Regions from separate parts of the Homo sapiens genome. Here regions 2 and 3 are each linked to region 1. Evidence: fine-mapped expression QTL. A gene starts in region 1. Each other region holds a variant in brackets. All regions are shown on one strand. Distances are between the middles of the regions.

Region 1 (11,220 bases):
GCCTCCTGGGTTTGAGCGATTCTCCTGCTTCAGCCTCCCAACCAAGTAGCTGGGATTACATGTACCACCACGCCTGGCTAACTTTTTTTTTTTGAGATGAAGTTTTGCTCCTGTTCCTCAGGCTGGAGTGCAGTGGCATGATCTCGGCTCACTGCAGCCTCCGCCTCCCAGGTTCAAGCGATTCTCCTGTCTAAGCCTCCTGAATAGCTGGGATTACAGGTGCACGCCACCACACCCAGCTAATTTTGTATTTTTAGTAAAGACGGGGTTTCACCATATTGGCCAGGCTGGTCTCAAACTCCTAACCTCAGGTGATCTGCCCGCCTCAGCCTCCCAAAGTGCTGGGATTACAGGCATGAACCACTGCACCCCGGCCCCTAGAAGCTTCTTTTTTCAATGATTTCTGTAGAAGTCCCAGGCTTGGCTTGAGAGTCATTGCTCTGCTATGAGTCAGGTGCCCATTCCTGAACTAATCACTGACCAGGGAGAGAAAGCTCTGATTGACTCAGGCTCAGAGCTGGAAGGGAGAAGGAGTCGCTCCCTTCAGCCTATTCAGATTCTTCCCAAGAGTTTAGTTTTAGGCATGGTGGCTCATCCCTGTAATCTCAGCACTTTGAGTGGGTGGCTGAGGCAGGGGGATCAACTCCAGGAGTTTGAGACCAGCCTGGGCAACATTATGTGATCCTGTCTCTACAAAAAAATTGGAAAAAATAGCCAGGTGTGGTGTAGTCCCAGCTACTTGGGAGGCTGAGGTAGGAGGATTGTTTGAGCCTAGGAGATTGAGGATGCAGTGAACCATGATTGTGCCACTGCACTCTAGCCTGGGTGACAGAACAAGACCCGGTCTCTCTCTCACACACATACACACACACACACACACACAAAAGGCTGGGCATGGTGGCTCACTCCTGTAATCCCAGCACTTTGGGAGGCCAAGGTGGACAGATCACCTGAGTTCAGGTGTTCAGGACCAGCCTGGCCAACATGGTGAAACCCCGTCTCTAAAAAAATAGAAGGGCCGGGTGCAGTGGCTCATGCCTGTAATCCCATCACTTTGGGAGGCCAAGGCAGGCGGATCATCTGAGGTCAGGAGTTGGAGACCAGGCTGACCAACATGGTGAAACCACGTGTCTACTAAAAAAATACCAAAATTAGCTGGGCATGGTGGCACATGCCTGTAATCCCATCACTTTGGGAGGCCAAGGCAGGCGGATCATTTGAGGTCAGGAGTTCGAGACCAGGCTGACCAACATGGTGAAACGGCGTGTCTACTAAAAAAATACCAAAATTAGCTGGGCATGGTGGCACATGCCTGTAATCCCAGCTACTCAGGAGAATCGCTTGAACCAGGGAGGCGGAGGGTGCAATGAGCCGAGATTGCGCCACTGGACTCTAGCCTGGGCAACAGAGTGAGACTCCATCTTAAATAAATAAATAAATAAATAAATTTAGAAATACAAAAATTAGCCAGGTGTGGTGGCACATGTCTGTAATTCCAGCTACTTGGGAGGCTAAGGTAGGAAAATTGCTTGAACCTGGGAGGCGGAGGTTGCGGTGAACTCCGCGCCACTGCACTCCAGCCTGGGCAACAAGAACGAAACTTCGTCTCAAAAAACAAAGAAAAAAAGTTTAGCTTTGGAGTTTAGGCTTGGGTTTTCCAGGGTTACCACTTTTTAGCTGTGTTATCTTGGGCAAATAATGGAAGCTTTCTGAACCTCAGCTGTAAAATAAGGATAACGGTAGTCTCTACCTCTTAGGGTTTTTTATGAAGAGGAAATGAGGTACTGCATGCAAAACATTTGCACAATGCTCACTACTTTGTTGTCATTGTTACTAGTTCCTTTCTCCAGCACCTGCACTTCCAGGATGTTGGCACAGGTCCTTCCTTCCCCATGGGCTAGAAGGAAACTTCCTCCTGTGAGAGCTGTCATAGCTCTTTCTCTTGATTGTCTATGTGGCATTTGGTTTCTGCTCATGTTCATGCTGCCCAAACTCAAAACTTCTCTGTCCTAGACTTTCAACCCCTAGAAGGGAAAGGATGGCTCCATTCTTTTCAATGTCCTTAATAAGAGAACTGCCATCAACACCCATCCAGTGCATTTACAGTTTCCAAAGCATTTCCTCCTCTGCCTTTTCACCTGAGCCAGAATGCAATCCTAGGGAGTGGGAGGGGTTATTATTCCCACTTCACAGATGGGGAAACTGAGGTCCAGGGAGGGGCAGTGACGTCATGGTCAAGCAGCAAGTCGGTGGACAAGAAATTAGGTGTTTCTGGATTGCCAACACAAGTTTCTTTTTGTGGGACAAATAGTTTTGAATATAGAGTTCAAGCCTTTGGTGAAGATCCCGGGGAGCCTGTTCTGCACCTGTGCTAAGTGATTCTTTTCATTCAGCATGCAGTCTGTCCCTGTCTGCTGCCTGCCAGTCTTTCCCCCAAAGTCCCTTCCTGCTTGAAACCCTCCTTCCCTAACCCCAGAGACACCCCTGGCCTGCACTGCCAGCTCTTTCTTCTGAAATACACCTCTCCAACCGGCCCCCATCAGTCTGCTCCATTATCCACCTGGAACCAACCTCCAAACCTCTGCAAGGGCAGATGAGAGTGTCTCCTCCAGCCCTGTTTTCCATGGACTGCTTTGGGCACGGATGAAATTGTTCAGCTTATCCTGCAAGTTCCTCTGCAAGACTGCTTATGTGCTCTAGACTCATAGAACCTGGAATTGAATCCTAGCCCTGCCACATGCTGCCTCAGTTTCCGCATCTAAAATAGGAATAGGGCTGCTGACGTCAAGGGATCATCATGAGGATGAATTGAGAGAGGAATGCCAGGGGGCTGATACGCTTCAAGGAGGGGGTCCAGGAAAGAGAAATGACTTTGAGGAATGCAAGAATGTCCCCTCTGACCTTGCACGTGGCGGTCTTCCGGCCTCAGGACACCCTCCTCCACTTCCCAAGCCTGGGCTAATCTGGTATTCTCCAACTCACTTCCTGTCCTGTAGGTTAGCTCATCATCTCATTATCTGTATCCAGTTCTCTTTCCAGGCTTGCATATTATCTGTGCGGCTACACACACTTGCTAGGTGGGTAGTGAAGGGAGTATTAGGCTCTGCATATGGAAAAGTGGGCCTGGGTGGCCAAGCCCCAGCATATCTCCAAACCTCAATTTCTTGTCTGTAAAATGTGAACAGCAAGAATGTGCACCTTGCTGGGCACGGTGGCTCACACCTGTAATCCCAACACTTTGGGAGGCTGAGGCGGGAGGATCACGAGGTCAGGAGTTCGAGACCAGCCTGGCCAACATGGTGAAACCCTGTCTCTACTAAAAATACAAAAATTAGCCAGGTGTGGGGGTGCGGGCCTGTAATCCCAGCCACGTGGGAGGCTGAGGCAGGAGAATCACTTGAACCTGGGAGATGGAGGTTGCAGTGAGCTGAGATTGTGCCATTGCATTTCAGCCTGGGCAATAGAGTGAGACTCCGTCTCAAAACAAATAAATAAAAAAAGAATGTGCACTTGTGGAATTGTGGTAAGGTTTTAGACCAGCACTGGTCAGCATGGTAGCATCTAGCCACATATGGCTATTTACATTTAAATTAATAAAAGTTTAATGAAGTTTAAAAAATTCAGCCCCTCAGTCTCACTAGCCACATTTCAAGTGCTCGCTGGCCTCCTGTGACTCGTAGCTATCCTACGGACAGCACGCAGAAAGAACATTTCCATCGTGGAGGGAAATTCTGCTGAACAGTGCTGATTTAGAAGCATCACGCCCGTGCTGTGCATCAGCTCTGTGTTATAACTCATCTGACATTGTAAACTCAGGGCAGAAGCATGATTGCAGTGTAAAGTTCTGCTTTCCTTGGAGATGGGGTAAAGAGGTGAGGCTCACAAGGAATGTTGGACTGGTTGAGGGCATTCTCTGGGATGAGGGTGGACCAAGTTCAAAACGGGGAGCTCCGGCTTCTGCTGCAAGGCAGGCACATAGGGCATAATTCCCTCTGCTGGTGGAGAAGGGGCACCAAGCAGTGGGAAGGGTGGTTAACTGGAGAGTGTTTCTAGCATCTAGAGCTACCAGTGTTTGACTTTTCAAAGGAAAAGTGGCTATGTGGTTTTGCAAACGTGTTACAAGCTCTCTCCATTTTTATCGTATTTATTGTATCACTAGCTAGACTAATAAAGAAAAAAGAGAAGATACAAGTAAACATAATCAGAAAGGGCAAAGAGGACATTACCACCGACCCCATACAAACACAAAAAAGCCCTCAAAAACTATTATGAACACGTCTATGCACACACACTAAAAAACTTACAATAAATAGATGAATTCCTGGAAAGATACAACCTTTTTTTTTTTTGCCAGAGAATGGAATTCCAGATCCTGGGTTGTTAGAACCTTAAGGGATACTTTCATCCCCTGGTTCCTGTACAGGGAGGAGGAATCTGAGGCTCAGAGAAGTACAGTGACTTGTTTAAGGTCCCTCAGTGAGTTAGGGCAGAGGAAGACTTCTGGCCACAGCTTCCCTGAAGCCAAGGCTAGGCAGAGTGTTGATGTCACCCAGGCAACAGGGATGGTGCCCTCTGCCCACCTAGCAAGCCCTGACTCATGCTCCGCGCCCCTGCTGTGAGAAGTCTCTGCTGACTCCCACCCTGATTGGAGCAGGTTAGTCAGCTTTGAGGTGCAGCCTCCAGTTCTGGCCCCTCCAGTTCCGGGACTCTCATTCGAGGCATTTGGGGCTGTCTCATTTCTGTGCCCAGCACAGGGCTTGGCACAGAGGAGGTGCTTTGTGGGTGCCCGCCAGTCAAGGGTTTCCGTTTTCGTGCCATGTAGGTAACCCCTTGCCATTCGTGCCCTTAGGTAACCCCTTGAGCAGCCTAAAGAAGCCTAGAGACTTCTCCGTTTTTGAGTATATTTTATTGACGTGAAATACACGCACGGAAAAGCGCACAAATCCAAAGTGTACTTCCGCGCATCTTCATAAAGTGAACACACTTGTAGCCTAAGAACCCAACCCTACCAGCGCCCGGCAGGCCCTGGCCCCCTTCCAGTCTCTCCTACTGAACAAGGTTTTTGAGTGAAACCGGCAGGCCGGAGCGTGAGTTTCTGCTTGACGGGGCGGGGTCTGCGCGTGCTGCCCGGCCGTGAGTGTGGGGGGGCCGTGAGTGTGTACGGGGTGGAGTGGCCTGAAGGGGATTAGAGTGCGCGCGTTCGGGTATTAATTTGCCAGGGTTTGTGTGGCGCTCGGGATTGGGGGTTTTTTGGGGGCTCGGGCGTCGACTGTGGGGCGCTGCGGAAGGGTGGGTCGTCCGCGTGGGGTCCTGGAGCGCAGGAGGCGGAGGGGAAGCCGCGCAGGGGCCACTAGGGAGGGGCTCTGGCGGGGTCGCAGGGGCGTGGTCTGCGGGCGTGGGGGCGGGACCTCGGGGCCTCGGGGGCGGGGCCTGAGGGCGCGCGCACGCGTCCGGCGCGCCCCCTCCCGGCCGCCATGTTGGCTGGTGTGTGGGTGTCAAACTGAGCCAGACGCGGCGGTGGCGGCGGCTCCGCGGGCTACGGTCGCTCCCGCCTCTCGAGCGCTGCCGGTGGCCGCAGCGGCGCACCCACGCCGGCCCGGAGGAGCAGAGGTGAGCCACAGCCCGTGGGGCTCCAAGGCCAGAGCGAGTCCCCGGGGCGAGGACCCTCCCCCTCTCCAGGGCGCGGACGCCCCCAGAGCACAGGCTCCCCTACCTCACCAGCCCCGCCAGGGCATGCGCCCCTGCCGCCCCGCTGGTCCCTACGCCAGGCTCTGGGGGATCCCCTTCTTTCCAACCAGGCCCCGCCCCACGGACTGGAGCATGGCCCCCTTCCCATCTGGATCCAGCTTTCCGCTGCAAGGATCTCCCCCCTTACCCGTCCCTATCACCGAGCATCTCCTTTTATGTCCCCAGAGTCCAGGGCGCCCCTTACTCCTACCTCGGATCCTGGAGCCCCGTTCATCTTGGAACAACCCCGCCCCCTCCCCAGAGCACGTTCCTCCTCTCCCCGAGCCCGGCGCCCCTTCCTCCTGAGCCCAGCCTGGTCTCCCGCCAGCCCCCGTGCAGAGCCCGGTCCGGGCGCCCTCCGGGAATCGGGGGAGGGGTCCTTATCTCTGTCCGGGATCCCGCCCGTCTCACCTTTCCTGGGGGCTGTAGCAGGGCCCCCTTCCGTCCTTGGGGACCAGGCTCCCCACTCCCCAGCCCCCACTCCCACGGAACAGCGGGGACGGGGGCGGAAGAGCCAGGCTCCAGCTGCCTTTTGTTCCGCGTGGGATGGCAGAGACCCACCCGGCCCGGCGGTCCTGCTCGGCTGATCCGGGTGGGTGAATGGGTGCGTGGGGTCTGGCCTCTTCCAGGAGAGACTTCCTCTCTCTCCCTGTGGGGCGGCTCCCCTAGAGCCGAGAGCCGAGCGCGTTGGGAGGCTGGCCTTTGCTAGAGGAGTCGGTGCCAACAGGTTTTTGTTTGCGACCTGAAGTTTGCCCAGTGGCTTTCCCTGGGGCAGCTTGAGCTCCCTGTGAATCCCCCCGCCGGAGCTTGTGGAAGGCCGTTTCTCCGCCCAAGGAGTCCGTCTGGGCGACTCCTTCACAGTTGTGCTTCCCTGGGGACGTATCTAAAATCTGTGCTTTAAGAGCGGAGAGGGCTTAACCATCATTAGGGTTCAGATGAGGGAAACTGAGGCCCAGAACTGCAGTAATTTGCCCAAGGTCACGCAGTGATACTGTGTCAGTGCAGAACTAGAAGCTAGGTCTCCAGGCTCTGTTTACCACATTTAATAACTTTTTTATCTTTTAGGGAGATGTTCAGGACCCTACCTTCCCCTTTATTTTTAATATTTATGCAAGAAAGTGGGCAGGAAAATATGAGAAGTAATGAGTTATTCCTTTTCACCTCCAGAAAATATCCTGTGAAAGAAGGGATTGGAACAGGGTGTTAAAATGATGGGAAAAGGTGAATTTTAAGAATCCAAGCTTCCTCTCATTATGTAATATAACGAAGATTTGGCAGAAAACGTGCCTCTTGTAGCTCTAGATACAGAATTTTAGGTGCTGACAAAATCTTATGCTGAATCTGGCACAGCAGTGATTGAGTTAGCATTGATAATTAAGTTTTCATCTGTATTTAAATGAACATCAAAAGGGACTACAATTTGCTTCTGAATGGTACTTGTTCGGTGCTTGTTTTTGGGACAAGTGATTGTGTTGGGGAAGCGCACCTAAACTTTTAAATTTTTTATTTATTTATTTTTTTGAGACGGAGTCTCTGTCACCCAGGCTAGAGTGCAGTGGCACGATCTCGGCTCACCGAAACCTCCGCCTCCTGGGTTCAAGCGATTCTCCTGCCTCAGCCTCCGGAGTAGCTGGGATTACAGGCGCACGCCATCCACCACGCCCGGCTAATCTTTGTATTTTTAGTAGAGACGGGATTTCGCCACGTTGGCCAGGCTGGTCTCGAACTCCTGACCTCATGTGATCCGCCCACCTCGGCCTCCCAAAGTGCTGGGATTACAGGCGTGAGCCAACACTCCCGGCCTAAATCTTTTATTTATCTGTATTTTTACTTTTACATTTTAAAAGCTTATTTATTTCCCTGGTTTTAAAATTGGGCTAGTCATCTTTACCAGTCTCACTGGGCTATTCTTTTGTAAGCAGGGAATGAGATACTGGTTATTAAAGATTTTGGTAAAGTGTAAGTTACTGTAAGGCATGATTCAGGACTGCGTCCCACAAGTCCCCGGACCAGGAGCCAGTTCGGATTGTCTTGTGGGATGTACCAAGTTTCCCTGGTTTACAGAGGCTTTTTGCCTCTCTGAAGCCTGAGCTGGCCAGATGGAGAGCTCTGTGGAAAACTTCCAGCAGTGTGTGTTGGGCCAAGCACTCGAGGTGTGAAGAAATGTAAAACTTTCAAGTGATAATATCTAGCATCGTGTATGCAGCCTTGAAAAATGACCCAACCTTTGTAGAAATTCTCTGTTATCACTAACCCTCTTCCATAATGAGCGGAGGATTTCCCAAGAATTGGGATTCTGATAAGAGTCCTGCAAAAGTTGAAAAGTTTTCGGACTTTTTTTTTTTTTAACTTTAATTAGGAGGAGCGGCAACTTTCGGTTGTGAACTGAAGTACTATGAGATTTTTATGCATGGAATTGTCCTTGTCATACTTTTGGAAAGTACATTAAAATTTTCTAAGTTTTCTGGCGGTTCTCACTGTTCCCCATAACCTTTCTCTCTGGTGTATAGGGGTGTGAAGGACCACGATTGTTGTCATTTTATGACATGTATACCTGGTGACCCTGAGCCTTGGAGAAGTCAAAGGGCTTGGATTTGGGGAATTTTTTTTTTTTTGAGATGGCGTCTCACGCTGTCACCCAGGCTGGAGTGCAGTGGCGCAATCTTGGCTCACTGCAAACCTCTGCCTCCTGGGTTCAAGTGATTCTCCTGCCTAACCTCCCGAGTAGCTGGGACTACAGGCGTGTGCCACCATGCCCGGCTAATTTTTGTATTTTTAGTAGAGATAGGGTTTTGCCATGCTGGCCAGGCTGATCTCGAACTCCTGACTTCAAGTGATCCACCTATCTTGGCCTCCCAAAGTGCTGGGATTACAGGTGTGAGCCACCATGGCCGGCCTTGGATTCGGGGAAGTTGAGGCTGGAAAAGATGTGAGGAATTACGTAGTTTGTATCCCTTTTTTGTCTGCTGGACTTTTAACTCATGTATTCGGTGTAAACAGACCTCTTCTGTCAATACTTTGCCGTCTAGCTCGTCCGATGTTTGGCCCCTTTTTCTCTGCTATCCTACCTTCACCAACCCACACAGTCTGCTGGTGCACTTACGACATTGTCCGTGTATCTGGGGCTCTTGTGACACTGTGACGTCTTTGAGGCCAGTGGTCAGCTTGTCTTTACTTCTCCAGTACCAGGCTCGGTCTCTGATAGATGGTAGATGCTCAGTAAAGGTTTGTCACCAGTATTCCTCGAGGCAGGGGAGCACATTTTTATGGCTCCCTACTGTTCTGTCGCACTGTTGCTGAAATCACTACTGTTGGTTCAGCAATTGTGTGTCAGTTGCATAGGTTTATCCACCTCATCTGCAGGTGAGGAAACTGAGGCCTAGGGAGCTTAAGTTACATGCTCGAGGTCGCGCAGCCAGTAAGTGATTTGAACAGATCTGTTGGACTCCAAAATGTTATTATACCTGTTACCTACTTCGAGGACCAAGTCTCATGGGGATGAAGAGACACACTGCAAGTTAACAGTGGACTGAGGGAGGTGGGGTGATATGATTAAGGTGGTTGAGGATGGGAAGAGCACATTTGTTTTTTGTCAGATGCATTGTGAAATGAATGTTTATGTCCATCTGTTGAGTTTTTGAAAATTGACAAACTTGCCGGGCATGGTGGCTCACGCCTGTAATTCCAGCACTTTGGGAGGCCAAAGCGGCCGGATCACCCTGAGGTCAAGGGATCGAGACCATTCTGGCCAACATGGTGAAACCCCATCTCTACTAAAAATACAAAAATTAGCTGGGCGTGGTGGTGCACACCTGTAGTCCCAGCTACTCGGGAGGCTGAGGCAGGAGAATCACTTGAACCTGGGAGGCAGAGGTTGCAGTGAGCCGAGATCGCACCACTGTGCTCCAGCTTGGCGACAGAGCAAGACTCTGTCTCAAAAAAAAAAAAAAAAAAAAAATTGACAAACTTTCTGATAAGTTCGTCAATGGAATTTTATTGCTTAACTAGTTCATTCAAGTTAACTAAAAATAGAAACTTAGAAAAACAAATACAGTGAAATAAGTATATGTTGAAAGCCGTTTCAGCAGCCTTTTTTTAAACCACTGTAATTTCCATCAACATTTAACATAGGGATTATCACCCATTTGTGAGTAGAAAAACTGAGGCCCAGAGAGGTTAAGTAAGCTGTGAGGAACTGGCACAGCCAGGATTCAAAGTGAATCTGTGTAATTCCCAGGCCTGGGTCCCTTCTGCTCCACTGGCCCCTGTAGAAGGCCCCACAAAATAATAGGTATTCATTTAAATAATAGAATAAATTTGTTGTCTGAAAGTCACCACCAAGTTTATTTAGAAGGTTGGGAATTGTGAATAACGAGATTTCTGGCTCTTTCCTAACCTTAGAACCTTTGAAAACACTGTGGTTTGAATGTCAATAATTAATGGATCATTTTAGCTGAGAGACACTAGATTTGGTGTTTGATCTGAAAAAAAAAAAAAAAAAGCCTAGGCCAGCCACGGTGGCTCATGCCTGTAATCCCAGCATTTTGGGAGGCTGAGGTGGGCGGATCACTTGAGGCCTAGAGTTTTTGAGACGAGTCTGGCCAGTATGGCAAAACCCTGTCTTGACCAAAAAAATACAAAAATTAGCCGGGCATAGTGGCATACACCTGTAGTCCCAGCTACTCAGGAGGCTGAGGCAGGAAAATCACTTGAACCTGGGAAGGGGAGGTTGCAGTGAGTCTCCAGCCTGGGTGACAGAGCAAGACTCTTGTCTCAAAAAACAAAAACAAAAAACCTGTCTTCTTTTGAACCAGATCCGCAACATTGTTAAAATGCTCCCTATCCATGCATTGGATTCTTTCTGTGACTCATTCCCCTAGTACCTAGGTGCTGGAGCCTGCTTCGTTCCTGGGCATAGAAAGTCCTTTTCCTGATTCTGTTTCCTGTTGGTCCTGGTCTAGGCAGAGTGTGCTTCACTTTCAAGCCCTCTAGAGACAGGACAGGTAACTTAATTCTCTTTCTGTTCAAAGCAATACAAGGAATTGGACATGCAAAGGGCTGTAAATAAAGGGACTCCCCATCTTCTCTTCATGGTAACCCTGCTGATATATAGAACAGGGAAAAGTAGGCTCATCCTGGGGGACGGCTGATTGTTTAGGGCTAATGCATGATGTGGATTTAAAAGCATTTATAATTAATCACTTCTGAGTGCAGGCTTCATTTTTCCTCTTGGTCCCACCCCTCTTAGGTAGTTGCACGTTGCAGCAGCTCGATAGCTGAGAACACCAAGTGGTACAGTTAATTTGGCTTCAAAGGCCATGTGGCAGATAGCTTTGGAATGAGGTGTGGGTACTAATGGGCCTCCTGGCTGGGTGGCTTTGGGCACTTTAATCACTGAGCTTTGGTGTCCTCATCTCTAAAGGGGGGCTCGTAATCACTACTTCATGAAATAGACTAGCCTTGTTTCTCAAACTCCTGTGTGCAGCAGAAGCA
Region 2 (11,220 bases), 72 kb after region 1:
ATACACCTTTTTGTCTTTTGCATCACATATATATATATGTTCCTGTTAAATATTACCTGGTGTAGTCCGGGTGGGGTGGCTCACGCCTGTAATCCCAGCAGTTTGGGAGGCCGAGGCAGGCAGATCACGAGGTTAGGAGTTCAAGACCAGCCTGGCCAACATAGTGAAATCCCGTCTCTCCTAAAAATACAAAAATTAGCTGGATGTGGTGGTGCGTGCCTGTAGTCCCAGCTACTCAGGAGGCTGAGGCAGGAGAATCGCTTGAACTCGGGAGGTGGAGGTTGAAGTGATCTGAGACCACTCCATTGCACTCCAGTCTAGGTGACAGAGTGAGACTCCGTCTCAAAAAATAAATAAATAAATAACCTGGTGTAATCTGAACTTAACTTTTTTATAATTTGCCTCGTTAGACTAAAAGCAGCCTTCCCAGCATCTCCCTGCGAGGAGGTAAAGTAAGGGCCTTGGAGGCTCTCCTGTGTTGAGAAGTGGCAGGAACGTCCTCAGTAGCCAAGGTCATTGCTGATTCAGGAAGTGGCCCCTGGAACCACAGGATGATGTCACCACATTGAGGAAGCGTTTCACTGCTGTTCAGTAACAAGGAAGGAACTTAGCTGAACTAGAGAACTGGCCACTGGACAGTGGACGCTGACCCTGTGCTCAGTGCTGGCTCCCTAGCCCCTCCCTCGAAGTAGGTCAGCCCAGCAGAAAGCAACCCCAGGCCTGTTCCTCGGAGGCCTGGGAAGGGCCACGCTTTCTGTGTGTGACGTGGAGGGTGGGGTGTCTGAAGGAGCTTAGCCCTCAGGTGGTCTGGTCCCCATGGATGGAGGAAAGAGCACCAGCTCAGGACAGGGCTGGAATCCACAGGGAAGAGCCAACTGCATCCCAGCACTCCTGACCCCTTGGTAGGTCAGTTGTTTACCTCCTCCCACAGGCCCCACTGTCTTCATTTCACTGATGTGGGAGCAGAAGCTCAAAGAGGTCAGGCTATCACATGGACTCCCACTGCTTGTCAGCGGTGGGGACAAGATTTGTCCGTCCAGTGCTCTTTCCACTATCTGGTCTTCCCTTGGCTGACATGCACAGGGTGTGAGAGGTGGTAGCAGTGCTTGGGCCCACATGGGGTCTTCTCACGCCCCCAAGGCCTGGCAACCTTTCATTTTTTCTGAGTTGTCAGACATGCCTGTGTACCCAGCATTGCCACACCAGGCCCAGGGACATAGGAAAACCAGGACCTCACCCTGCCTTCTCCACAGGGTCTGTGACGCTCACGTACCAGTGCAGTCATGCTGCCCACTGCACAGAGCCATTTGATGGTAGAATCCTGTCCCATGTGCTGTAAAATGTAAAAATATACTTTGGTTTTTTTTTTTTTTTTTTTTTTTTGAGACAGTCTTGCTCTGTTGCCCAGGCTGGAGTGCAGTGGTATGATCTTGGCTCGCTGCAACCTCCACCTGCTTAGTTCAAGTGATTTTCATGCCTCAGCCTCCTGGGTAGCTGGGACTACAGGCACGTGCCACCACACCCAGCTAAATTTTGTATGTTTAGTAGAGACAGGGTTTTGCCCTCGTTGGCCAGGCTGATCTCGAACTCCTGGCCTCAAGTGATCCACCCCCTTCGGTCTCCCAAAGTGCTGTGACATCATTACAAGCATGAGCCACCATGCCTAGCCTACATTTGTGTTTTTTGTACTTGCCACTTTCTTTCTGTTTGACCTATCCATGCAGATTAGAGGAGGCTTTTTAATCAGCACTATGTGACTGGCAGATGCTGCTTCCATACTTTCTAGGAAAATTGCAAAATGTAGCTGATAAGAATCAATTTCCTGTTTTTCTACCAACTCGATTGCCTTCTTTCACAGTTACCTGAAAGTGGCCCACTGAAGCATCTTTATTAAAAAATCTTTCACCCTTTGTTTTAGGAGCGCATTTGGGAAAGGGTGTCTCTCCCCCAGCACAGAGTACAGGCACCCAGGCTCTGCCGGGCAGTCCCTGGAGCAGACAGGGTGGACTCGAGTGGGAGAGACCCTTGTCTGCCTGAGTTGGGAGAGTTTTCTTGGTCTTCTTTTTAGATTGTATTTTGAGGGAAATGTTGGGCTTTTCTAGCCTTCCTACTCAGCCTCTCCCCCTTAGGCTTTTTCTCAGCTGGTGTGACAGACTGGAAAGGATAGAAATAAGGCCTACCTGTGGTTACAGTTCTTGACCACAGCAAGTGAAGACTTGGAGCTCTTCCAGTGGGGTTCATAATGCAAAAGGCCGCCTTCCTGGGAGAAGGTCCGTGCATTTGATGCGACTTTAGTGATGAGCTTAAACTAACAATTCCCGTTCTTCCTTCCAGTGAGTGTCTGGGAAAGCAACCTGCAACAATGAGAGAGTGGCACATCCCCCAGCACTTGCTTTTTCCCTTGGTCCCTGTGAGCTCTGAACCTTCAGATCCTCAGAGCAGAGCCAAGGCCAGGCTCAGGTGGTCAGAAGGGCCCATTCAGGCCTGTCTCACAACGACGTCTGTGTTCACTGTCATGTGCATGGGCACAAGAGGCCCTTTGTGGAGCTGAGTTGCTGTCACCAAGGCAAGAATATCTCTGCTGGAATCCTCCCTCGAAGCTCAGTCCCGTTGTGTGTAGCTCAGCTGATGTTCAATGGTTGGTGGCCAAGAATTCTGCCATCTGCAGAACTGAAAGCTGTACATCCGTTTATGAAAACCACAACATTCAGGGGAATACCCATTGTCTTTAATTTCTACATTGATGTGACGAGCTATGATGTGGTGAGCCAGTATGTGCCAGCTGTGCGTTATTCTAACAGTGTCAGTTATGGTAGACGTAAACATGTACATTTGCATTTGAAGCTATTCTGGCCTTGCAGATGTGCTAGAAAGCTCAGAGGACAAAGGAGGCCTCACTTCTCCAGCAGGTCCAGTTCAGAGCCCCGTGCCCACTCTCCCCCTCCAACCTGGCTGTATCAGGCACTGTAGCTGTGCAACTCAGTACCAGCTTCCCTGCCAGGATGGGGCTTGTTTTCCAGAGCACTTTTTTTGGGGTGGGGTGGGATATGAGCCTTCTACTTGATTCATTTGTGGTTTCCATTTGGTAGTAAATGAAGGATGTCGTAAGTGCAATATTTGCTTTATAGCAAGGGTTTTGTGAACCAAGCCTCAGAGATTCCTTATCAGGAAAGAGGCTGGGAACAGGTGGCTGGAGTGGTTAATGATTTGGGTGTGAGTGCCCTGTTCACTTGAGAAGAGTCCCCAGGAACTGTCTGGCTTCCTTTATTCTCTTCCATGTGGATGGTGACATCTTTTTGAACATAGGAAAGCCCAAACTTGAGAGTTCTGATTGGCATAGGTGAAGTTTAGGAACAAAACGAACAAAAAAATATACTTTTTGTTTTGGTGTATTATTAAGAAATCAAGTTGTTAAGGTGGATTGAGGACTTTTCTTTACCCTCTAGCTTTATTTCTGAAGAGATACTTTGGGAAATATAATTGAGTGATAACACTAGGATGGGATTTGACTTGATTTTATTTAGAAAAATACATTTATGTTTTTATAGCTGCAACTTTCTTTTTTTTTTGGAGATGGAGTCTCGCTCTGTCACCCAGGCTGGAGTGCAGTGGCGCGATCTCAGCTCACTGCAAGCTCTGCCTCTTGGGTTCATGCCATTTTCCTACCTCAGCCTCCTGAGTAGCTGGGATTATGGGTGCCCACCACCATGCCCGGCTAATTTATTTTGTATTTTTAGTAGAGATGAGGTTTCATCATGTTAGCTAGGATGGTCTCAATCTCCTGACCTCGTAGCTAGAATGGTCTCGATCTCCTGACCTCGTGATCTGCCTGCCTCGGCATCCCGAAGTGCTGGGATTACAGGCGTGAGCCACTGTGCCCGGCCCGTTCCAAAGTAAATTTATTGCTATATGTTTTGTGTGTTTTTAAGAATTTCATGACAGGGTGATGCCTCTGCTTGGCAACCTCACATGGTAGAGAAGTTCCCAGTCTCCTGCCCGGCCCCACCTCAGCCCTCTGCCCAGAAGCAGCCTCTTTCTACCTCCCCTGGTTCTTCTGTGGATCCCGTCTGTGGCCTGAATTGCATTTAGGCCTCTTCCCCTGTTTTATTCACCATAGCCATGGCCCAGCTATCTGAAAGCCTCCTTTGTCAGGAATTATTCCTAACCTTTTAGTTTCTCTCAAAGAGGAAAACCCTAAGAAGCAAATTTAGATTGGAAAGTAAGGCAGAAGCAACACCTAGGTGAATGAATCCTGCTAGTTAGGTTTCCTAAAATAGATGTAATGAAAGAAGGAAGTAAACTAATACACAATTAGAACATTTATTTATTTTTTGAGATGCAGTCTTGCTCTTTTGCCCAGGCTGGAGTGCAGTAGCTTGATCTTGGCTCACTGCAACCTCTGCCTTCTGTGTTCAAGCAATTCTCCTGCCTCAGCCTCCCAAGTAGTTGGGATTACTGGCGCCCGCCACCACACCCAGCTAATTTTTGTGTTTTTAGTAGAGACCGGGTTTTACCATTTTGGCCAGGCTTGTCTAGAACTCCTGGCCTCAGGTGATCCGCCCGTCTCAGCCTCCCAAAGTGCTAGGATTACAGGCATAAGCCGCCATGCCCGGCACAATTAGAACATTTTAAAATGACCCGTTAACCATGAAATTGAATTCTGTAGTTGTCCATCTGTCGACCTGTGCATGCACCTGTCTGTGCATGCATGTAAGCCTCCACCCAACAGGTGTTTGTCAGCCAGGGGTGAGTGCTACAAGGGAGAGGTGCAGAGGTGCAGAGTCTGACACAGCATCAGGATGGAGGGGAAGGACCAGGTCCGGGAAGCCGAGCTCTGACTACAAAAGAGGAGGTGGGTGCGCTGAGGGAACAGCCTGCACGGAGACCCGGGAGGAGGACAGGGCAAGGAACCATCTAAAGCAGTAGCTCCAAATCTCTCAGAGGGCAGGTCTTGTTCTGAGAGTTTTAGAGAAGCTATGGACCCTTCCTGAAACGGGGGCAGAGGTGGGCACATACTTCTAAAACTACAATAATTTCTAAAAGCATTTAGATTCCCTGATCGTGAAACATCCTGATGGCTGTGTAAGCCCCAGCACCCAGCACCATGGTTTATGTTGTGAATGTTAAGACTCCCGTGGGGTTTGTTACATCAGCTAGGAGTTCACATCTCATTCATTCAATAAAAACTGTCTTTCCAGGAGCTGCTTAGAAGTATTTAAACTAGCTAAGTGCACAGCAAAAGTGTCTGCATTTTTATCTGCATTTCTTTCTAATCAGTGTACAAAGCTGCTTACAGAACGAAAATGTTTGGGGTCACTGCAGAAATGGGCGGGCTTCATTTTCCATGATCTCGTAGTAACACTACGAGAGACAAAGGTCAACTCTTTTTTTTTTTTTTTTTTTGAGACGGAGTCTCGCTCTGTCACTAGGCTGGAGTGCAGTGGCGAGATCTTGGCTCACTGCAACCTCCATATCCCGGGTCTCTAAGTGATTCTCCTGCTAGCTGGGATTATAGGCACACGCCACCATGCCCAGCTAATTTTTGTATTTTTAGTAGAGATGGCGTTTCACCATGTTGGCCAGGATGGTCTCGATCTCTTGACCTTGTGATCCGCCCGCCTCGGCCTCCCAAAGTGTGAGGATTATAGGCGTGAGCCACCGCGCCTGGCCTCAAAAGTCAGCTCTTGAATGTTGGTGTGCCTGGAGTGGAGTCTTTGGTCTCCAGATGCCCTCCACCTGTTTGAAGGATGCTCTTTGGTTCATCTGTTCAAGAGCTATACTTTGGGTCTTTGAGTTAGTTCCTTTTTTGGAGCACTGCAGATCTGCCGTGAAGACTGAGGTTCTGATCCTTGTGAGGCCTGATGGCTGGGGCTTGCATACCCAAAGGCATCTTCTCTTGGTTGGTACCAGGGGACTTCTGTAGTTGGGAAAGCTACGTTTGACTGTCACTTGATTTTAACATTCAAATATTTGTAAGCCTTTCCTTTCCTCTGCCTGCATTGTTGGGCTACTGCTGGACCTTGCGGGTTTGAGATGGGAATGGAATGTGGTCTGCCCAGGAAACTGCTGTGCAGGAGCTGTATCAGCCTTGTCTTTTGCATATGATGACTTGGTCTTCCCCAACAGCCACCTCCCCGCGAGTGTCCTCCGAGCTGGAGCAAGCCCGGCCCCAGACTAGTGGAGAAGAGGAGCTTCAGCTGCAGCTGGCACTTGCCATGAGCAGAGAAGTGGCTGAGCAGGTCAGTGCCCCAGGCAGGTCTGCA[C/G]TGCATTGACTGCCCATGCTCAGGGTGGAGTGTGGCTCACTGGGAAGAAGATGGCAGACACAGCCCTGTCTTCAAAACATTTCAGATATGCTTGCTGAGATGGCATTTCATGCTGCCGTAAGTGTGTATTCTTGTCACCCAGTGTCCCTCCCAGTCAGGGAGGGATCCCATGCAAAGTTACATTTAGGAAAGATTTTCTAGGAAGTCATTGCCAAGGAAAGAAACCAGTTAAAAATGCTTCCCAGAAACACTTGTGCAGACACGTGTCTGGGCTTTCCCTGAGTGAGCTGAGCCTGCACAGGCTCTTTGAAGGGTGGCATGCAGGGTGGGCGCAGGGATGCAGGCCTGAGGGGCAGGAGCCAGCCCAGCCCCCGCCAAGCACTTTGACCTGTAGCAAGAGATTTGCAAAAAACAAAGGCTGGGAAAAAATGCTCCCGAAATGAGAGTGCTTGTGTTTTGATGATGGAAGTATGTATAGTTTTAGTTTTTTTCAGTTCCCATTTTTCTTTTCTTTTCTCTTTTCTTTTCTTTCTCTCTTTCTCCTTCTTTCTTTTTTTTTTTTTTTTTTTTTTTTGAATCAGAGTCTCACTCTGTCACCCAGGCTGGAGTGCAGTGGTGCAATCTTGGCTCCCTGAGACCTCCGCGTCCTGGGTTCAAGTGATTCTCGTGCCTCAGCGTCCCGAGTAGCTGGGATTTCAGGCGCGTGCCACCATGCCCGGCTAATTTTTGTATTTTTAGTAGAGACAGGGTTTCACCATGTTGGTCGGGCTGGTCTCAAACTTCTGACCTCAAGTGATCTGCCCACCTCGGCCTCCCAAAGTGCTGAGAGTACAGTCTTGGGCCACCGTGCCTGGCCCCCATTTTTCTTTAGTAAGCATGCATTACTTTACAACAGCGAGAAGGGAAAGGAGCAATTAGAGTGGCCTTACAAATTGTCAAGCCTTTGGTTGCAGTTATCAGGGCTGTCTCCAATGACCTTTGGTTAAAAAAGGTAGATGGGACCAGGGGCAGCACAGGGATTCCTCTCCTCTATTAGAAGTTGGTGTTCAGAGAGGAATACTGGGGATAGTTAGATTTGAGTACTGACAAGTTCATCCCGGCATTGTTTGTGTGTCTATAACTGGCAACATTCTAAAGCTCAGTGACAGTGGGCAATCTCAGTTGTGGCCTCTCTGTCCCTGCAGTGGGAAACAGGCCACCAGTAACTGCCCAGGTGGATGCATGTGGCTTCATGGCCAGCAGCCCAGGAAGAAGGTGCGTGGTAGCATCCACTGAGAAACATAGGGACAGACGGACGGTTTGAGCCCATTTTAGTTAATATTTATAATAAAATATAAGGGAGCAAGTTCAAACTCCCGTGCTGATCAGTAGTGGCATTGTCCCTGTGAATAGCTACTGTGTAGCAGCCTGGGTAATACCATGAGACCCTATCTCTTAAAAACAAGAAAAGAAAAAATACAAGGAATATATTATTTATATTTAATTATTATATTATATAAAAGCTTAGGACAACCCTGTCTTTTGCATATGGTGACTTTGCCTTAAATAAAGATAGTGAATCATTTCTGTTAGGAATCATAGAAATATGCAGCCATTTTCCGGAAGCATACACAGTGGAGGTGGAATGATACGTGATTTTTATCTTCTTTCTAATTCCTTTTTGGGTTGTCAGATTTGTGTTTTATAAGGACACACATTGCTTCTATAAGTAGAATTTATAAAGCCAGTTTCATTTTGAGAAAAAAATATTTTAGATTAAGCATTCCCTTTCCCCAGTTTGGTGGTACCTGAGCCATAGTCTCCCTGGTGTGACCCCACAGGGGTCCAAGTCACAGGAGTCGCCATGAGGGAGGGGCCTTCTGGGTACACACACATTTGGGATTTGAAAGTAATTGTGTTTTACAAGTAGTTTTGAAATCTTCCTTTGAAATACTGCATCATACAATGTGCATTTCCTGTTTCTGGCCAGTGTGGCTTTGTTCTGTACAGTGATGTTATTACAATTACCAGTTTGCATTGTCCCTCTACAGGAAGAACGCCTCAGGCGGGGTGATGACCTCAGATTACAGATGGCCCTGGAAGAAAGCCGAAGGGACACAGTTAAAATTCCAAAAAAGAAAGAGGTAAGAGCTTGCTGGGAGGGTAGATGTTTCACCCTGTCCTGTAGTTGTTGCCTCAATATCCCCCCACCAACTTGCCTGGATGGCGTGATGCACAGTGAGTTCTCCAACCTCAGCAAATAACCTTCATGCCTGTAGTGAGCGAGAGCCAGGTGAGCAAGCGACTGAAAACACACCTGAACTAACCAGGAGACACTTAATGTCCCAGTGCCTCAGTCTGCTCGTTTGTAAAATGGAGGTGATGATAGTGCCTGCCTCCTGCCGCTGTGGCTACGGCAGCTGTCAAGTGAGCTACATGCCAGGGGCTGCGGAACGCTTTCCTGCAGCAGGGTGTGCCCCCAGAAGTGCTGGTTGCCTCTTCAGCCCTGTGCCAGGCTTCCTGCTGTGATGTAGAGATGACCAGGACATGGCTGGGCTCTTGACAAGCTCATCATCATCCAGTCAAGACCCAGACCCCTTCTACACCACAGGCCCCGGGGCTCCATTGGCCTCCTCTGTTACAGTGCTACTGAGGCCGGTGGAGCCCCTGGCTCCTGACTGGTTGATGTTGATGATCCCTGATGACACATGGGGTGGTCTTGAGAGTGGGGAGCATGCAGGTGCCCGAGGAGGAGGGCCCTCAGGCTGGCCCTGGATGGTGGCTGGCAGGTGGGAGGGATGGCGTTCTGGAGGAGGTCCACAGCCTGGGCAGAAGCCAGTGTTAGCCTGGAAAAGTCTGTTGAGCCCTGAGGTCTCTGAAGTCTGGTGAGGGGGTTTAGCAAACAGTAAATAGCTTGTTGTGACTGGAGAGCTGGCTGGACGGGGAGGGAGATGGGACGGCTCAGTTTCCAAGTTCTTCTCAGCCCCTCCTAGAGGGCTTCACTGGAGGAAGAGGCACAGGTGGGTGATATTTATGGCTAGTTCATGAGTATTTGCTGTAACTGTAGCATAGTAAAACCTGTCCCCTTCTCTTTGTCTTAAAAGCATGGCTCTCTCCCACAGCAGACTACGCTGTTGGATTTAATGGATGCTCTCCCCAGCTCGGGCCCCGCGGCCCAGAAAGCAGAGCCCTGGGGCCCGTCAGCCTCCACTAACCAGACCAACCCCTGGGGCGGGCCAGCGGCTCCTGCGAGTACTTCAGACCCCTGGCCATCGTTTGGTAAAGACCCCATTACTGGTCTCCCGTGCTTGCCTGCTGGATGGGTGAGGGGCAGGGCAGTGCTTCTTGCTGTCTCTCACCCACTTGGGTCTGGTCGATTGTGGTGGGTGTCCAGGCTCCTCCAGCCCTCAGCAGTGATATCCAACTGGCCCTTGCCCTCCTCCTTGAGGATGGTGGCATGGTGTTCCCTCTTTGTTTTGAGTGGTTTTCTGCTTTGGGAGAAGGAAAGTCAACCTCCCCTCAACCTCCCATTTGCATCAGAAATGGCTTGTGCCTTCTCTGGGACATGTTTCAACTCTTGCAGCCTCAGCGTTACACCCAGCGTCCCAGCTGAAGGAACCAAAATACACAGCATGGAACATCCAAATCAAGCTGCTGTAATTAGATGGAAATTATGATGTGCTTACCACCACTGCTGATGAAAAGGGGATACATTTGCTATAATTCTGCTTGTTACTTAAAGCAATAGAAAATCCGTTTAATAGGCTAAATGAATATTTTAAAGTTTTGCTTAATGTGAGATGTAAGAGGAATTGTGGTGGGAAGTTCAAAATGTGAGCATGACACAACTGGTTTGATTTGGGTGATGATCTTGGGCCCACGAGTTTCTTAATCACTGGGCAGGAGCATGGCCCAGCAGGCTTTATGAAGGCTTCCTGGCCTGGTGCCCTGGGAGGCCCCTCCTGGTGTGCTAAACCCTACTGGGCGTGGCTGACCTGTGGGCTGTTTGGGAACTTTGTATATCTTGTGGCATCTTGCCTGTATCTCCTGGAGTCTCTGTTTCTCTCAGAACCGTCTCTTGTGTTTAACTCGGTTCCCTAGATGTTTGCTAAAATGTACCAAGTGACAGGCTGTGTTCTGCTGTGCATGACCCCTGAGACAACAGGTGATTATTGTCCCTGTTGTCTGTTGTCAAGGCCCTGCTCAGGAGCGGGCAGGGCAGGAACACAGCGTAATAGCAGTACTGTGTAGTCCAGGACTCGATGGAGGTTATTTGAGAGCATCCTGGGATGAGATGAGACTCAGTACAGGAGTCCAGGAGTGTGAGGTAAGCATTTTGGAGGAAGGCCACTTCCGTTGAGTCCCCAGGGAAAAGAAGGTGTCCAGGCACCAAGAGGCAGGGAGTTCCCTGCAGAAGACTCAGCGTGTGAGAAGCAGAGGGGTACGGAGTGGTGGAGTGGGTGCAGATGCAACCAGCTGGTGTGAACTGGGAAGCAGGGGAGAAGGGCCCAGATCACTCAGGGCCTGCACTCAGCCTTACCAAGTGCTTGGACTTGGTCCAGAAGACACTGTCAGCCCCCGATGCCCTTTAGCATCTGGTGAGTTCCAATAGCTTGATGGTGGCCTCTGTAACCCAGGCAGGGCCTTATACCCCCTTTGGCAGGAGCCCTCTGGGCCTTGGGAAAAGCCCCAGGCAAAATTGCCCACAGCTTTCATTGACTGAAGGCCAGTTCCAGGGCTGCTCAAGAGGTTGGTTCACAAGGTTTGTCACTTGTGTGTGGTACCCCCAGGGAGCCTGTGGTATGGTTTTACTCACCACACATGGGGACTGTGGTGCCCCAGGGCTGGCAGACCCTTTTAGACAGTGGCTTTGGCTTTATTTTTAAATCTGAAGAATGATTAGTCTGTAAAGTGATGGCCACCATAAGTTATGGTTAGGATGTTTTCAGGAAAGACTGTTCATTAAACTGTCGGATAG
Region 3 (9,378 bases), 84 kb after region 1:
TGTACCATCATTTACTAAGCAGCCTAGTGATGTTCATAGGGGTGTTTTTGCAGTTCTGGCACTCTGCTTTCAATAGAAAAATACATTAAAATCACAGTGATTTCTTTTAATTCTGAGATTCTTTTCTCAGTGGTGGTGTTGACCAGCTCTGCAGGAGAATGGCCCTCTGCTAGCTCCTGCATTCACTGAAGCGTGTTAGCACACCCTCTGCTTCCACATTCCATCAGCGTAGCCTCAGAGCAAGAGTGTGGTATTGGATTTATTGTTTAGCATCTAGTTAAATCCAATAGTGCAAATTTTCAGGGTCACCCCTCCATCCTGAGACTCATTCATAAATTAGAAAGATTGGAGTCCCTTCCCCTAACAGTGTTAGCTGTGCCCTCTGGATGAAAGAAACACTGTTTTGAAAGCCACCATTTGTAGTGAGCCCCATCATTACCAGTTTTTTCCAAGCAGCACTAGGAGCAACTTGGCCAAGTGGCCTTGGGAGGAAATGCTCAGGGTTGAAAGGAGGGAGATTGGAGCCTGCCAGGTCAGTGGGGCGCTTCCTCCTCTGTTCCAGACACACAAAGCAGCCACCTGGTCTGAGGAGGGCTTATAGCCTGCTGATTCAGAAGACCTTGGCTGGCTGGAGCCCTCTCTCTGTACTCCCGCCCACTGCCTGGGCTGGGACAGAGGCTGTCTTCCGCCCTGGCAGCAGCAGGTGGTGCTACTGGCTTCTTGGTGACCTCTGCACGGCTCAGTTCTTCTGTGACGCACCACCCCCCCGCGTTGTGACTGCCTCCCTGTGCACATGAATATTCATCTGTGAGGCTCGGGATGAGCCAGGCTGGCGGGTGGGAGGCGACCGGGACACAGGCTCCCTGTGAATGGGCCCCACAGAGGAAGAGGCCGGAAACTGCTTGATCTTTCAAACCTTGGTTCCATCTTCGTTTCCTCTCATTCACTTGAGCTTTCAACAAGCATTTATTGATTGGGTATGTGGCATGGCCTGGACCCTGCCGAGGACGTGGAGAGGGAGAGCACAGAGAGAAGCCTTGCAGCGGATCTACTGTCCATTCATAGAGGAGGAGCATGCCCATTGCCTCCCCGAGCCAGCAGGCGTTCCCTGAGGGTACAGCTGGCCCTCAGGGAATGATTGTGACTTTGTGACTTTGTCTCCAAGTCACATTTCAAGAAAGCAAGGTGCCACAGTGTGTGACCTTCCATGACTCCCCCGCACACAGCAAAGAAGGAGGTCACACTGGCCACGGGACTTTGTATGTGTCTGGGGGGCTTTGCCCATTTGTATAGTCTGAATTCAGCCCAGCAGTTTGCAGTGTCCTATACACATGGGTCCCCAGTGTCACTTGCAGAATGCAAACTAGACAGAGCCCACCCACGCCAAACAGCTTGTCCATGATTACCTGGGTGATTTGGAGGTGGTCAGGATTTGATTCAAGCACAGACTTCACTCTATGTTCAAAGCTGTCTGGGCTGTGACCAACTTTGTCTGTGTGGGCTATAAGAGTAGGGGGTTCTTGGCTGGACATGGTGGCTGACGCCTGTAATCCCAGCATTTTGGGAGGCTGAGGTGGGCGGATCACGAGGTCAAGAGATCGAGACCATCCTTGGCCAACATGGTGAAACCCCATCTCTACTGAAAATACAAAAACTAGCCAGGCGTAGTGGTGGGCACTTGTAATCCCAGCTACTTGGGAGGCTGAGGCAGGGAGAATCGCTTGAACCCGGGAGGCGGAGGTTGCAGTGAGCCGAGATCATGCCACTGCACTCCAGCGTGGGCAACAGAGCGAGACTCCATCTCAAAAAAAAAAAAAAAAAAGAGTAGGGGGTTCTTTCTGAGCCAAAACTTGTAGTTTCAACATTGTGCATGATACAGTTGCAGAGTTTTAAAATTCTTAGCAGTGCTGTTGTTTGTTATTTTAATAGCAGATTCTAAAGGGGAAGCAGGGCCCATAAGAGCTAACTGGAGGTGTCAGAAGAGTCTCTGGAATAGTTTCAGGTGGCATTCCACTGGAGTGTGGGGTTCTCACGTGGAAGCCTGGCCCATGAGTCCTGGATGGTGGGTCAGCGTGCTGCTGGCTCATGGAGAGTGCTTCAGAACCCGTGCAGTGGAGATACTGCACATATTGCAGAGTTCATGGTAGAAAGAATTCTTCCGGAAATGTTGGCTGGGCATGGTGTCTCACGTCTGTAATCACAGCACTTTAGGAGGCCAAGTTTGGCAGATCACATGAGGCCAAGAGTTCGAGACCAGCCTGGCCAACATGGTGAAACCCCGTCTCTACTAAAAATACAAAAAATTAGCCAGGTGTGGTGGTGTGTGCCTGTAATCCCAGCTACTTGGGAACCTGAGGCATGAGAATCGCTTGAACCCGGGAGGCAGAGATTGCAGTGAGCCAAGACCATGCCACTGCACTCCAGCCTGGGCAACAGTGAGACCCTGTCTCAAAAAAAAAAAATTTCCAGAAATGTTAAAATGCCTTGTGTTAACTCTTAAAGATATAAACCTATTAGTTTAAACTGTGTTTAGAACCTCACTGTCTGAGAGTACGTCTAGATGGAAGGACAGATTCTACTTTTTAAATTTTTTTTTTGAGATGGAGTCTCGTTTTGTCACCCAGGCTGGAGTGCAGTGGCGCAATCTCGGCTCACTGCAACCTCTGCCTTCCAGGTTCAAGCAATTCTCCTGACTCAGCCTCAGCCTCCCAAGTAGCTGAGATTACAGGCGAGTGCCACTACGCCCAGCTAATTTTTTTGTATTTTTAGTAGAGACGGGGTTTCACCATATTGGCCAGGCTGTTCTTGAACTCTTGACCTCATGATCCACCTGCCTTGGCCTGCCAAAGTGCTAGGATTACAGGCGTGAGCCACCTCGCCTGGCCCCTTTTTTTTTTATTTTTTATTTTTATTTTTTTTTGAGAGAAGGTTTCCCTCTGTTGCCCAGGCTGGAATGCAGTGGTATGATCTGGGCTCACTGCAACCTCCGCCTCCCAGGTTCAAGCAGTTCTCCTGCCTCAGCCTCCCAAGTAGCTGGGACTGCAGGCATCTGCCACCACACCCAGCTAATTTTTGTATTTTTATTAGAGACAGGGTTTCACCATAGTGACCAGGCTGGTCTCCAACTCCTGACCTTGATCCACCCGCCTCGGCCTCCCCAAGTGTTGGGATTACAGGCGTGAGCAGCGTTGGGATTACACCATGCCCAGCGACAGATTATACTTTTGCAGGGAGCCTGGGTGTGCAGCGGCTGAGGCCAGAAAGGCGAAGCCTGAGGGACCTGGGGCTCGGAGCAGAGCTCAGAGACTCCTCTCTGGTGAGGGCCTCTGCAGGGGCTCAGGCATCCTGGATTCCCTTAAATGCCTAATCTTTATATTGTGTCTCATTGTCTGCCTGGCAAACTCTTATGTATTTTTGAAATCATGGCTCAGACATCCCTACTCAGGGGATGTGGTCACCCCGTCCTCAGGCCTGCCTCTTGCCCTCTTGCCATTGATGGCTGCCTGTGACCCGCATGCTGGCTGTAGTGGCTGTCTGTTTCTCTATCTCAGAGGGAGGGGCCATCCTGGGGCCAGGCCTGGGGACTGCTGACCAAATGTTGCTTGGATAGAACAAGGTGACCGTGGGAGACCAGAGCTTGTCTCCACCACGCATCTGCCCACTCAGGCTTGTAAGTCTGAGCTGGGTGCTCACATGGGGCCTCATTTTTGAGGAGGGCTTGGTGAGAGGTCTGGGTGCACCCAGAGCTCAGTGTTTCTTATGCATCCTGTCTGCCCATTTGAGTCATCTCAGTAGCTTCTAAAAATCCAAATGCTCAGGCCCACCCCAGAATCTGTGTGTATGCAGAGGACAGCATCAGTATTTTACTAAAATCCCTAAGAGCTTCCCAAGAAGAACCATGGTTGAGAACCACTAGTCTGGTGCCCCCTGGCCCAGGGTGCATGAATACCACTCAGTCTAAGACACTTGAAAGCTCCATGTCTTAGATAATCAGGATGGAGATTATGGGCCACTCTAATCTGGTTGTGTTTCTGAGCCCCTGAATTGGACATTTATCCAGAACCTGTTAGAAGTGGTCACTGAACTCCAGTGTGCAGAGATGCAGATAAACTGCAAAGTCCCTGCCAGCCTGAGGTCCTGTGGGTCCCTTGATCCTTGTGACCTCTCTTCAATCCCTAGTTAGTGATGGAGCACACCCTCTGTGTGTCAGGCTTGGATCTCGGGGATGGGCAGCAAAGCAGACCCAGCCGATGTTCTCATGGAGCACATGCTTTGGCAAGGGGGACAGATGCAGTCTCACATGCACACAAGCGGCATGAGTGCCCTGAGAAGGGTTTT[G/C]AGCTGGGTTTAGAGTGGGAACTGCATGGCGGGCTGGCATAGAGGCTGCAGAGTGGGGGCTGGGCCTTCCCAGCAAGTGCCCCACATACAGTATGTCAGGGGAGCCAGTTTGTTCGAGATGTGATGCTGCCCTCAGCTTGACCCAGTGGCTAGGAGGTGACCACCAACACTCAGACCCCCTTTGCTGTGTTGTTCACCTCAGAAGCTCAACCCTTTGCTCTGGCACGCACAGTGGCTGCCTCTGGTGCCCACCTCATAGTCCCAGTTAACACAGCCCAGGGAATAGAGAGAGTGGATTTCTCTGTAGCTCCAGTACCATTTCTGGGATTTAGGGATGGGGGACTGGAGTTGGGGACACTTTGCAGATTGACTTTAACCAGTGAGAACCCTTTTCTGTTGCCAGGGCAGGATCTGTCCCTTTTGAGACTGACTGGAAGTGGGTGAGGGGAGAATTCTTCCAAGGAGAACCAGGGCATCCTTGCAGGAGAAAGCAGGAGTGGGGGATAGAAGTAACCGGGGCATGTCCCCTGACAGAGGCAAGTGGGAAGGGATAGTAGCTGGGGAGTGAGATATTGTGCAGGGGAGATGATGCATGGTCAGGGCTGCAGGGAAAGCGAGGCTCCAGTCTGTTATCCAGGCACAGCTGGGCTGCTGAGCATGGGCAGTGAGGAAGGCATGTTGACTCCCCCAGGCTCCACAGGGGGCCAGAATCAGCCTGGCACTTGGCCCCAGGTCTCCCGTGTCCTCTGTGTTGTGTCACCGCAGTCCTGAAGTCACACCACAGCTCTTCGGCTTGCAGTCAGCTCTCTCCCTGATTTGTCATTTCCACCATGCCACTTACGTCCAGCTGGGACAGAGAGCTGAGGACCCACAAGGTGTCCTGTTGCAGGGGGTTAGAGTGAGGGCTTGTCTCTACAGTGTGATTCCAGCAGGGGGCAGATTTTTGTTTACTGATAGCCCCTTCCCCATGTCGAGCAGAGGTGGACCTGGCAAGGGCAGCTTCAGTCCTGGGGGAGGACGATCTGCATGAGACACTGGAAGACGAGGAGTGAAGTGTCAGAAGAAGCTTCTGGATGGAAACAGTTATTTCTGGAGCCTCTAGAAGGTTGTGGGTTCTGGGGCAGTAGCAGGAGAAGCCCTGAGTCCAAACAGGAGTGGACAGGCCATGAGGAAACGAAAGGCACAAGTATCCATGGGATGTTGGGAACAAAGCTTGCAGATTGACATCTGCTTTGGCCTGGCCAGGCCCCCATCGCCGGGGCAAGCTTGGGAAGGAGTGAAGGCAGCACTCTCCTCCTCTCCCTCCTAGTGCTGCTACAGCTAGCCAGTAGCTGATCCCGGCCAAAAGTGAAAAAGGCCACCAAGATAGTGGCTGGTGGGCCAGGTGCAGTGTCTCCTTGCGCCTGGCCAATAATATATTTTTACGTAAGAATTTGTGGGACAACTGAAACCTGTGAGACCAGCCTGGGCAACATAGGGAGACCCCATCTTTACAAAAAATAAAAAAATCAGCCAGCATGGGGGTGTGTGCCTGTGGTCCCAGCTACTTGGGAGGCAGAAGTGGGAGGATCCCTTGAGCCTAGGAGGTTGAAACTGCAGTGAGCTGTGATTGCACCACTGCGCTCCAGCCTAGGTGACAGAGCAAGAACCTGTCTCTAAAAAAAAAAAAAAAAAAAGGTAGTGGCTGGTGTGGCTTAATAGGCCCTTACTAAAGCTATTCAGCATTTCAGAGACGAGAAGGCATGAAGCTACATGTAGGATGCCTAGCAGTTGGTTCATCTTTTTGAAAGCCAAGGAGTCTCCTCTTCACCTGTCCATCCTTGAGCAGCAGAGCTGGGGCTTTTAAGAGAAGCATTTGTAGAATTCAGAGTAGGAATGAGGGAAGAGACTAGTTGTCTCGGAGGCTCAGGGGAGCATTCCCTGGTCTTCTGAGATTGACACATCACTGCCACCTTCTGCTGCCTTTCTCTAGGCCTCAGAGCTCAGCCAGGCTGTCACAAGCTTGCTGGGTGCCACCCTAATGTCTGGTGCCAGGGCTGAAGGTAGCCCTCACTCCAGGGAGTTTACAGTGCATGAGAGACTCATAGTTAAATAATAGTTATGGTGCTGTATGATAAGTGATCTAAAAGTCAAGGGGGGGATTCCAGAGGAGTCAGAGAAGGCAGGAAGAGAAAATAAGAGGGCCGGAGAGGCCCAGAAGATGCCAGGCATTTGGGAAGCAGTTGGGAATCAGTGTGGCTGGGGGTAAACACGGGAGCAGAGTGAGGACACCTAACACATATCTGTTTGGAGTTTCAGAAGAGCTAATATTTGAAAGCTGACAGGGTTTTCCAGAATTTTGGAAAGATGCTCCTTCTCAGATCCAGGAAGCCTGGTGAATCCTAAGCAAGATAAATCAAAGAAATCCCCACCTGGACATATCATCAGGAAACTGCAGAACACCAGAGGAAGAAAATACCTTAAATAAACCTACAGAGAACAGGCCATTCATTACAAAGAAATGGCAACTAAATGGATAGCTAACTTATTGACAGCAACAGTAGATGTCTGAGTGGCATAGAGTCTTCAGTGTGCTGCAAGAAAAACACAGTCAACTAGAAAGCCATTGCTAGCAAAATCATCTTTCTTCCAAGAATTGATAATTTTTTTAAAAAAGATATTTTAAATTTGGAAACAACAACAGCAACAAAAACTGCCAACCCCCAGAATTCTGTATTCAGTGAAAGTGTTCTTGAAGAGTAAAGTTGAAAGGATGACATCTGTTAATAAAACACTAAGAGAATTTGTTGCCAGCACATCTGTACCACAGAAATGTTAAGAGAAGTTCTTCAGGCTGATAGGAGGGAAAACCAGATGGAAACTCAGATCTTCAGGACAGAATGAAGAGCATCGGAAATGGGAAATAATTTGGGAGAACATTTCAGAAGTAATAAGGATATAAGAAAATTTGAGCGGCACAATCCATAAGCTTATGAATTTGTTGTTCCCAGCAATTGGAGAATACACATTCTTTGCAGTCACATGCAGAATACTTGGAAAAAATTGATGATGTCCTAGACAGAAAAGCTAGTCTCAACAAATTGCAAAAAATTGGTATCACATATAACACAATTTCTGATCACAGTACACTTATGTAAAAAATCAGTTAAAAGGATAAGTAGAAAACCTTCATACACCTAAAATTTTAAGAACACTTCTAAATTCTTGAGTCACAGAAAAAATTATAATGAAAATCAGATATATTTAGAACCAAATTAAATATATATTTAGACGGAGTTTTGTTCTTGTTGCCCAGGCTGGAGTGCGATGGCGTGATCTCAGCTCACTGTAACCTCTGCCTCCCGGGTTCAAGCAATTCTCCTGCCTCAGTCTCCCGAGTAGCTGGGACTACGGGCATGTGCTACCACGCCCAGCTAATTTTGTATTTTTAGTAGAGATGAGGTTTCTCAATGTTGATCAGGCTGGTCTCAAGCTCCCGACCTCAGGTGATCCACCCACCTCGGCCTCCCAGAGAGCTGGGATTACAGGCATGAGCCACTGCGCCTGGCCAATAGTATATTTTTACATAAGAATTTGTGGGACAACTGAAGCAATAGTAAAATAAATTTATAGCTCTAAATGTTCACATTAGTAAAAAAGATATAATGAAGTTAGAATAGCATTACACTGACGTAAAATAAAAGGAAATTATAAGGATAAAGATAGAAATTAATGAAAAGAACATAAACACATAATAGTATCCGTAAAGACAAGTCAGTAATTGAAAAGAGTAATAGACAAATTTCTGGCAAGAAATTTTTTTAAGAGGAAGGGCACAAACAGCATTAGGAATGAAACAGCATAACTGCCGGCACACTCAGGATTTCATGTCGGGTGAGAGGCTGACTCTTTGATCAGCTCTGTGCTTACAAATCCAAAAACTTAGATAAAATGGATAAAATTAAAAAGGAAACAGCAAAGCTAACTGAAGAATAATAAAAAACCTATAAATAGAAATCTGTAATCATGGAAGGTATGGAATCGGTATTTAAAAATCCTCCCCTTCTGCAAATCCACCCAGAGGGCTTTGCTAGTAAGTACTAACAATATTCAAGAAACAATCCCACTTTCATACAAACTCCTTTAGAGAACAGGAAAATAAAGAATATTCCTAGTCATTGTATGAGACTAGCAGAAGCCTAATGGCAACACCAGACAAGGGCAGTGCAGTGAGAACAAACATTTCAGGCCAGTCTGGTTATGAATATAGATGTAAAAATCCTAAGGAAAGAAACAATTACAAAACCCAAGCCAGGGAAATATTTTCAAAGATGTACATTATGAAGTACTTTGTTTGCAAGAACCAACTCATTAGAAAATTTACAAATGTACCATATTAACAGATTAAAACAGAAAACATGTGGTCATCTTAGAGGCAGAAACCATTTGATAAAATTCATTAGCCATTTATTTCCAAATTCTAGCAAACTTGGAATAATGGCAAACTTCCATAACCTGATAAAGGGCTTCTAAAAGGAAAAAAGCCTATAGCTAACATTGAACTTAATGGTAAAATATTAAAAATTGATCCTGTAACATCAAGAGCAAGACAAGGATACCAACTACCAGCACTTCTATTTGATGATGTAACTGGTGATCCTAGCCAATGCAGTAAGACAAGAAAAAGACAAAGTATAAAGGACTAGAAAGAAGACACTAAATAGTCATCATTTGCAGGTGATGGGATTGTACATAGAACATGAAAAAATTTCTACAGATAAGTTATTAGAATTAAGAATTATTTGAATTATTATTAGAATCAATAATTGGAATGACTTCTAATTAACAGTTTGGCAAGATTGCTGGGTACAAAAGAGTATACAAAAGTTTTTCTGCATAACAATAAATAGATTTCTATGAAAAGTTTAAAAGATACTAGTTCCTAGAAATAATGCTTAGTTCCTAGGAATAAATCTTACAAAAGTTGTACAAATATCTGTGGGAGATAAAGGGTAAAAATTAAAAAGATTAAATTTGACCAAAAGATATTAAAACTTAAGC

Which allele goes with the higher level. Alleles are on the strand shown, and positions count from the first base shown. SD is a standard deviation of normalised expression in the study named.
In carriers of allele C in region 2, the expression in tibial artery of the gene that starts at base 5,445 in region 1 tends to be higher than with G alone (moderate effect, 0.61 SD a copy in GTEx).
In carriers of allele C in region 3, the expression in spleen of the gene that starts at base 5,445 in region 1 tends to be lower than with G alone (small effect, 0.26 SD a copy in GTEx).

The links. PIP is the estimated chance that this variant, and not a neighbour inherited with it, causes the effect. A credible set is the group of variants that fine-mapping cannot tell apart.
Region 2: its variant is the best candidate, but not a certain one, in a credible set for the expression of EPN2 in tibial artery (GTEx, PIP 0.69).
Region 3: its variant is the best candidate, but not a certain one, in a credible set for the expression of EPN2 in spleen (GTEx, PIP 0.53).

The regions. Positions count from the first base shown.
Region 1 is chr17:19,231,922-19,243,141 of GRCh38, forward strand. EPN2 (epsin 2) reads left to right here and starts at 5,445. Exons shown (of 11, transcript NM_014964.5): 1 at 5,445-5,610. RefSeq lists a silencer at 5,353-5,822.
Region 2 is chr17:19,303,759-19,314,978 of GRCh38, forward strand. It overlaps EPN2 (epsin 2), which reads left to right. Exons shown (of 11, transcript NM_014964.5): 5 at 6,127-6,239; 6 at 8,294-8,386; 7 at 9,347-9,521. It overlaps EPN2-AS1 (EPN2 antisense RNA 1), which reads right to left and starts at 2,503. Exons shown (of 3, transcript NR_048576.1): 1 at 2,181-2,503; 2 at 57-180. RefSeq lists enhancers at 438-637, 2,466-2,595, 5,164-6,080, 6,081-6,996. The variant C/G (reference allele first, on the strand shown) is at 6,264.
Region 3 is chr17:19,316,746-19,326,123 of GRCh38, forward strand. All of the region lies in intron 7 of EPN2 (epsin 2), which reads left to right. Among named protein-coding and RNA genes, the nearest start is that of EPN2-AS1, 15 kb to the left of the region's middle. RefSeq lists an enhancer at 421-960. The variant G/C (reference allele first, on the strand shown) is at 4,339.